2 linked regions of the Homo sapiens genome follow. The protein of the gene in region 1 purifies or fractionates together with the protein of each later gene. This does not show direct contact. Each region holds a gene or a part of one and is shown in the gene's direction. Other genes may lie near its edges.

Evidence for each region.
Region 2: the proteins of RTEL1 (region 1) and ANKLE2 purify together in Homo sapiens (affinity purification with mass spectrometry, with the first as the bait; one large-scale study listed by BioGRID). This does not show direct contact.

The regions. Positions count from the first base shown.
Region 1 is NC_000020.11:63,664,607-63,668,329, forward strand, and holds part of RTEL1 (regulator of telomere elongation helicase 1), read left to right. Parts: intron 1-1,397; coding exon 1,398-1,473; intron 1,474-2,862; coding exon 2,863-2,947; intron 2,948-3,723. UniProt on the Homo sapiens protein: A probable ATP-dependent DNA helicase implicated in telomere-length regulation, DNA repair and the maintenance of genomic stability. Acts as an anti-recombinase to counteract toxic recombination and limit crossover during meiosis.
Region 2 is NC_000012.12:132,744,756-132,748,478, reverse strand, and holds part of ANKLE2 (ankyrin repeat and LEM domain-containing protein 2), read left to right. Parts: intron 1-147; coding exon 148-341; intron 342-458; coding exon 459-647; intron 648-3,723. UniProt on the Homo sapiens protein: Involved in mitotic nuclear envelope reassembly by promoting dephosphorylation of BAF/BANF1 during mitotic exit.

The DNA.
Region 1 (3,723 bases):
GGCTTGGGCTCTCACTGCCCGACCTGGCGGGAGGTTGCCTAGCCGTGAACCTTCGCACCCTGTCTGCCACCGGACAGGCTGTGAGGGGGTGTCTGCAGCACCTGCACCGGCCTGAGCATCTTCAGAGTGGGCTGCAGCTCCTGGAGGGGTCTGAGAGGAAGGGAGGCAGGTATTTTGGGCGAATGAGGAGACAGCTGGAGAGCTGGCACCCTTCCTGGCCTGCGTCCTGTGAGGACTCTGGTTGGGGACAGCAAGCTTGGGGTCAGCCTGGGGCAGAGCCTCTGGGACGGCCCCGCCCCTCGTGCCCCTTCCCCTCGCAGCTCCTGTCCTCGCCCCGCCCTCAGCTCTCCGCCAGGCAAGGTTTGGCAAGTGCCGCTGTGCGGCAGTGCCTGCTGATTGGCTGGTCTGTTGCTATGGTGCTGCCCAGGGGTGTGCTTTTCCTCCCCTGCCTTCCCTGCTATCCCTGGGAGTATCTGGGGTTGGGTCATCGCTGGTGTGTGTGAGTGTGTGTGTGTGTGTATGTGCACGTGTGCATATGTGTGCGCTTCTGGCCTCTGCAGCTGAGTCCTGGCCCTCGGGGGGCCTGGCACCTCCTGGGGACAGGCACAAAGCAGCCATGATGGAGTCGGGAGCTGGGGGAGGCCCCATTGCCCCACGTGGCTGCCCTGTGACTCTGGGGTGCTTGTTAGAAGAGGTATCTGGTTCTGTCTGTGTTTAAGCAACTCCCTAAGGAATTCTTGTGGTTCCAGTTTGGGGGGCCTGTACTGTAGAGGCAAGGGAGGGGCAGGACATCCCCCAGACTCTGACTTCTGAAGCCTTTTCTGCCCGGGGCCTCTCCGCCAGTACAGGCAGTGTCCTTTGCCAGGGCTGCCATGCTGCAGAGGGGAGTGGGCCACTGTTTAGCCCAGGAAAACCTGGCTCTCCCTTAGCTGGAAGTTCTGGGCCTGTTGTGGTTGGCAGGGAAGCTGAGTGACGGTGCTAATCACAGGGGCACCTGCAGGGGTTTGTGGGAGATGCCTCTGTGGGTTGGGGCGATAGGCTGAGGGGCTGTTCTTCCCTGCCCTGAGGAGGGCTGAGTGTAGCCGCCACTCCTGTCCTGTCTTGGGCTGTCTCGGAGAGGATGCGTAGAACCCTCGGGATCCTGCTGGCCTCCGTCTGGTCCACCCTGAACCTCAGGCCTTCTGGGGGCAGAGGAGGATTCCCTCAGGATCACTCGGGTGGGGGCCTCTCTTGGGCACCTGAGACCCTCAGTGGGTGCTTTGTGGCGCGTTCACGGTTGGTGGGGGACGCCCAGCCCTGCCCGCCGTGTAGGAGCCGTTCTGTCCTGGGCATCCCCCTGTGGTCTGGGACTTAGTGGACCCTGAGGGTGTGTGTTTACCCCTGCCTCACACCTGCAGAAAAAAGCCTGGAGCAGGAGCTGGCCAGCCCCATCCTGGACATTGAGGACTTGGTCAAGAGCGGAAGCAAGCACAGGTGAGACCCCTCAGTGAGGCCACGACCACTGTCCTTCCATGGCCCAGCTCTCCTGTGACCTGTGGAGGCCCGGATATATTTCTTCACTTTTCTTTGTTCCTTTTTAAATTATGAAACTAACCACCATTCAGTACGAAAAAGTTTAAGCAGCTCTGAGGAAGATAGAGTAAAAAATTGTCTCCCTCTTCCCTGGCCCTCAGCCATCCCCGGTGGCCACCGTGGAGTGTGGACGGAGCCCTGCAGGCCTGTGTCTGTGCGGAAGCACGCGCAGTTTTGTCTGCACAGACTGTCCTGCAGTTGGCTGTTTTCACTCAGCGTTGTGGGTATAGCTTCCCATGCTGGTGCTGGCAGCTCGGCCTTGTTCTTTTGAGGACAGCAGATGTCTCCTATGTCTACCTCTTACAGCTTCAGAGATTCAAGTTATAATAAAGCTCTTCTTATATTGAGGGGGAAACCTCCCTCCCCCTTTTTTTTGAAACAGGGTCTCGCTCTGCTACCCAGGCTGCAGTGCAGTGTCACAGTCTTGGCTCACTGCAGCCTCAGCCTCCCAGGCTCAAGCGATTTTCCCACCTCAGCCTCCCAAGTAGCCGGGACTGCAGGCACACACCACCATGCCTGGTTAATTTTTGTATTTTTTGTACAGACAGGGTCTCACTCTGTTGCTCAGGCCAGTCTCCTGAGCTCGAGAGTTCCACCTGCCTTGGCCTCCCAAAGTGCTGGGATTACAGGCGTGAGACCCCATGCCTGGCCAGCTCTTTTTTTTTTTTTTTTTTTTTTTGAGACGGAGTCTCGCTCTGTCGCCCAGGCTGGAGTGCAGTGGTGCGATCTCGGCTCACTGCAAGCTCCGCCTCCCGAGTTCACGCCATTCTCCTGCCTCAGCCTCCCGAGTAGCTGGGACTACAGGTGCCCGCCACCACGTCTGGCTAATTTTCTGTATTTTTAGTAGAGACGGGGTTTCACCGTGTTAGCCAGGATGGTCTCGATCTTCTGACCTTGTGATCCGCCCACCTCGGCCTCCCAAAGTGCTGGGATTACAGGAGTGAGCCACCGCGCCCGGCCCAGCTCTGCTTTTTCTTAGTGGTTCTGCGTTGTGTTTGTTTCTATCCAGGAATAGGGTTGGTTTTACTTTTCCATCGAGTTTTTAAAGAGACGACGATTTACATGGTCGGAAACTCACGAGGACTCCCCATCCCTTGGTCGGAAACTCACATGGACTCCCCATCCCTTGGTCAGAAACTCACGTGGACTCCCATCCATCCCAGGCAGCAGCTTCCCACCTGGGCCCTACGTGCAGGATGAGGGCTCCTTCCGGGTCAGAAGACATGGCGGCCTCGGGGCACCGTCCCCTGCATGGGGTGCTCACAGGATCTTCTCCTCTCTCCTTCCCAGGGTGTGCCCTTACTACCTGTCCCGGAACCTGAAGCAGCAAGCCGACATCATATTCATGCCGTACAATTACTTGTTGGATGCCAAGGTGGGGGCTCAGTCCTGTAGCTGACGACTCCTGATGTCCAGGGGTGTCCCTGGGCTTGGGAACAGCTGTCCGAGCCTTTGCTGCTTCAGGGCCTTAGATCAGCAGGCCTGGGTGGGAGGACTCACCTCTGTCACTGGGCAGGGGCTCAACCTGGCCAGACACACTTGTGAGCAGCCCCAGGCCACAGGTCAGTTTTCTGAGCAGTCTGGGAGCGGGCAGGCTGGTGGGAGTGAGGAGAGACCTCCAGGCTGTGGTCCATAGGCCAGTGCCCGCTCTTGATCCTGACAGCTCAGGTTCTCTCCTTCACGTCAGGCCATGGGAGGCACCGAGAACACAGGAAGCCCACTGACTCCCCTCTTCCCAGCGCGTGCCCGGCCCCACACTCACTCCCCCTCCCAGCATGTGCCCGGCTTCACACTCACTCCCCTCTTCCCAGTGCATGCCCGGCCCCACACTCACTCCCCCCACAGCATGTGCCCGGCCTGACACTCACTCCCCTCCTCCCAGTGTGTGCCCAGCCCCACTCCCTTCCGCCCCGTGTGCCCAGCCCCACGCTCACTCCCCCCGCCAGCATGTGCCCGGCCCCACACTCAACTCCCCTCCTCCCAGTGTGTGCCCGGCCCTGCTGCCCTCCTCCCCATGTGCCCTGCTTTTGTGCCCCACACTTTTTACTTAGTGCAGGTGGGATCACACGCCACGGGTCAATGGTTTGTGTGTTCACGTGACGATGGCGTGGTGACGTTTCCAGATCCCGTCGTTGGTTCGCTCATTCTCGG
Region 2 (3,723 bases), on another chromosome or scaffold:
GGGCCCTTCTCGTCTTTTCTCACCTGTGCCTCCCAGTTGGCCCAGAAGCCTCTGTGGAAAGCTGCTTATCCCTCATCAGAGGGTGCATGGGTGATGAGTGACTTTTGGTGAAACTGATTGTTCTTAAATTCTGTCTCTTACTGACAGATGGTTTGTGCTTGTCGGAATCAGAAACAGTCAACAAAGAGCGAGCGAACAGTTACAAAAATCCCCGCACGCAGGACCTCACCGCCAAGCTTCGGAAAGCTGTGGAGAAGGGAGAGGAGGACACCTTTTCTGACCTTATCTGGAGCAACCCCCGGTATCTGATAGGCTCAGGAGACAACCCCACTATCGTGCAGGTAGGTCTCGGCGGTTCCCTCGGGCAGGTGTGCGGTCCCGGCCGTTCCATCGCAGCACTCGCACAGGGCGTGTCCACACATCAGATAGGAAGCTCAGAGCATGCGGTTCTCTTTCAGGAAGGGTGCAGGTACAACGTGATGCATGTTGCTGCCAAAGAGAACCAGGCTTCCATCTGCCAGCTGACTCTGGACGTCCTGGAGAACCCTGACTTCATGAGGCTGATGTACCCTGATGACGACGAGGCCATGCTGCAGAAGCGTATCCGTTACGTGGTGGACCTGTACCTCAACACCCCCGACAAGATGGTGCGTGCACACCCTCCACTCACGCTTTCTTTATTTAATTGGTTAAAAGTCTTTCCCCAAAAGAATGCTTTATCGACAAGTTACTCATTAGTATAATAACTTTGGGGAAAAGATACATCAATTACACCCCTGCAACCTGCCTTCTTACCACATCCCACTGGACAAAGGGCACCGAGCGCTGGGGTTCCCTGGCCCCTGCATTGTCGTCGTGTGTGCGATGCTGTCCCCGAGGGTGTCTGAACTGTCTGGGGACACGGTTGTCAGAGGACATTTCCTCTGCCGAACAGGACACCTTGAGCTGAGCAGCACTTCCCCTCCCGGGAGTGGCAGAGCTGTGCACACCACAGGCAGGCCCTCAGTGTCCTACCAAGAGCCACTGAGGCACAGAGCTGCCCCTGCAAACCATGCTGCCTGACACGCAGGGCTGTGGAGAGAGAGAGAGGCTGCCTGACACGCAGGGCTGTGGAGAGAGAGAGAGGCTGCCTGACACGCAGGGCTGTGGAGAGAGAGAGAGGCTGCCTGACACGCAGGGCTGTGGAGAGAGAGAGATGCTGCCTGACACGCAGGGCTGTGGTGTGAGAGAGAGGCTGCCTGACACGCAGGGCTGTGGAGAGAGAGAGGCTGCTGGGGTGCGACTGCTTAGAAACAGGAACGATCTTGGTAGCTCCGGAGAAAAGGTGACAGCAATCCTGGCCGATGCCCATGCCCCACCCTCCACCTGACCTGTGGGGTCATTTCATCTGAAGTGCAGCCAGCAGGCGGGTTGGAGTCACTGATGAGTGCCCCCCGGGCCAGGCCCATGCAAGGCAGCACTGGGAAGCGGGCACAGCTCTTCTAAAGGGTGCTAAAGACAGGCTTTTCCTTCTCTTAGCCCCTCCCACCCCTGGGAGCCCAAAAGTCCTTCAGGGCAGAGTAGGGAGCCAGGGGAGCTGCCCTGCTTGAGAAGAGAAGCAAGTTTTATACACTGGGATGGAGCGTGTTAGTGAAACCAACACCCCAACTGGAACAGGCAGTCACACAGGCCAGGTGTAAAATCCCACACAGTACTCACAGCCATTGAGCAACCCTCATTTATATGTTTATGATAAATAAAGCATGAGGTAATGTGAGGCTTGAATTTCAGCTTGAGTCCAAAGAAATAATATTCTCTCACTAGGAGGCTAAAGCTGCTTTGCCTAATTTCGATTTTTGAAAAGTCCACTGCATTAAAAAAAAATAATGAATTTGCTTTTCATTAAAGCTAGATTAGTACAACAATTGGGCAGTTGTTGATATTCAGTTTACTTTCTGTGGGCAGGAAATGGACACTTCTTGTTTAGCATTTCAAGATAAAAACTCATGGAACAGGTAGGGCTTTCTGGGTGATTGCATTCCTTCTGTGAGTTAGGGAAGGAGGAGGTCAAAAATGCCACTTATGCGTAGGACTCTTCAATGCTTCAACATTCTGATGGGCTAACCTGATTCTTTTTTTTTTTTTTTTTTTGAGACAGAGTCTTGCTCTGTCTCCCAGGTGGGAGTGCAGTGGCACAATCTCGGCTCACTGCAAGCTCCTCCTCCTGGGTTCAACTGATTCTCCTGCCTCAGCCTCCCGAGTAGCTGGGACTACAGGCACCCGCCACCATGCCTGGCTAATTTTTTTGTATTTTTAGTAGAGATGGGGTTTCACCGTGTTAGCCAGGATGGTCTCCATCTCCTGACCTCGTGATCGGCCCGCCTTGGCCTCCCAGAGTGCTGGGATTACGGGCGTGAGCCACCGTGCCTGGCCACTAACGTGATTCTTAAAGGGAGCCTGGGCTTTGGCTCAGTATTTCAAATCCTCCGCCCTGTCCACTTCCTGTACCCCTAGGAAGGACAGCACAGTTATCTGTTTCACCTACAAACTTTAGTATATAACTATGTACACAACTGTTGAAATTCATGTGGATGCGGTAGCCACGTCTCCTTGTGGATGGGCAGGACTATTCTCAAAGCCGGCTCTGCGTGTGCGTCCTGGCTGGCCGCTTTGTTGCTCAGAGCTCCGGCTGTGATGCTGAGGGTGTGTGTGTGTGCTCTGCAGCTGAGCGTAAGCGACCACAGGCTTAGAGAGGTGCGGGATCCGACGGGCTCGTCGCCCCTCCCTGCTGAGGAAGGGAGATTGTCCTTGCTGTTCTCTGTCACCCACGACCTTAGACTTCATGGGCCCAACTTGGTCTTCAAACGACTTGAAAGTTGCAAATTTCCTTACGTCTCCGAGCTTCCTACTGATGGCAGAGCCCACCATGGACAGGGCCGCTGAGGTCTCTGTCTTGGTTGAGGTCTTCTGTCTTGCTGTGGGAGCATTTCCTGAGTCTTGCAGAGATCCGGGTGGGCCACTTTCTCATTCCACTTCCACATTTCTCAGAAGTCTTCACATAGGCGTTAGAGAGGGTTCCGTTTCAGCCTCCAAGGCAGAGAGGCCCAGCCTCCTCTCAAGCTCTCCACAGTCCCCCTCCTTGGCTGCCAGCACTGGTGTAGAGTGACAGTTTCCTCATCCGTCTTGGTAGCTGGGCCCTGAGCTCTTCCTCCTCAGCCTCTGTCAGACCCTCAACAGCAGTAGCCTGGGCAGCCCCACCTGTGTCAACAGGGACATTGGTCATGGAGTTGGACGGCAGGCCTTTGTGAGGAGAATTCGGGTTGACATCTTGGCTGGCGGCGTCTGTGTTCAGGCAGTCATGGGCCGCGGTGCGGGCGCTGTGGGAGCCGAGTGATGGGCTGTGGGAGCCGAGCAGGCAGCAGCAGGGTTGCTCACTGCACGCACGCTGCCCGGGAGCTGCCTCTGCTGGCTGTTTTAATAGGAATGGTAGCCAGTATTGTAGTTTAAGAAAGATTTGTGAGGCCGGGTGCAGTGGCTCACGCCTGTAAACCCAGCACTTTGGGAGGCCGAGGCAGGCGGATCACGAGGTCAGGAGATCGAGACCATCCTGGCTAACACGGTGAAACCCCGTCTCTACTAAAAATACAAAAAATTAGCTGGGCGTGGTGGCGGGCACCTGTAGTCCCAGCTGCTGGGGAGGCTGAGGCAGGAGAATGGCGTGAACCCGGGAGGCGGAGCTTGCAG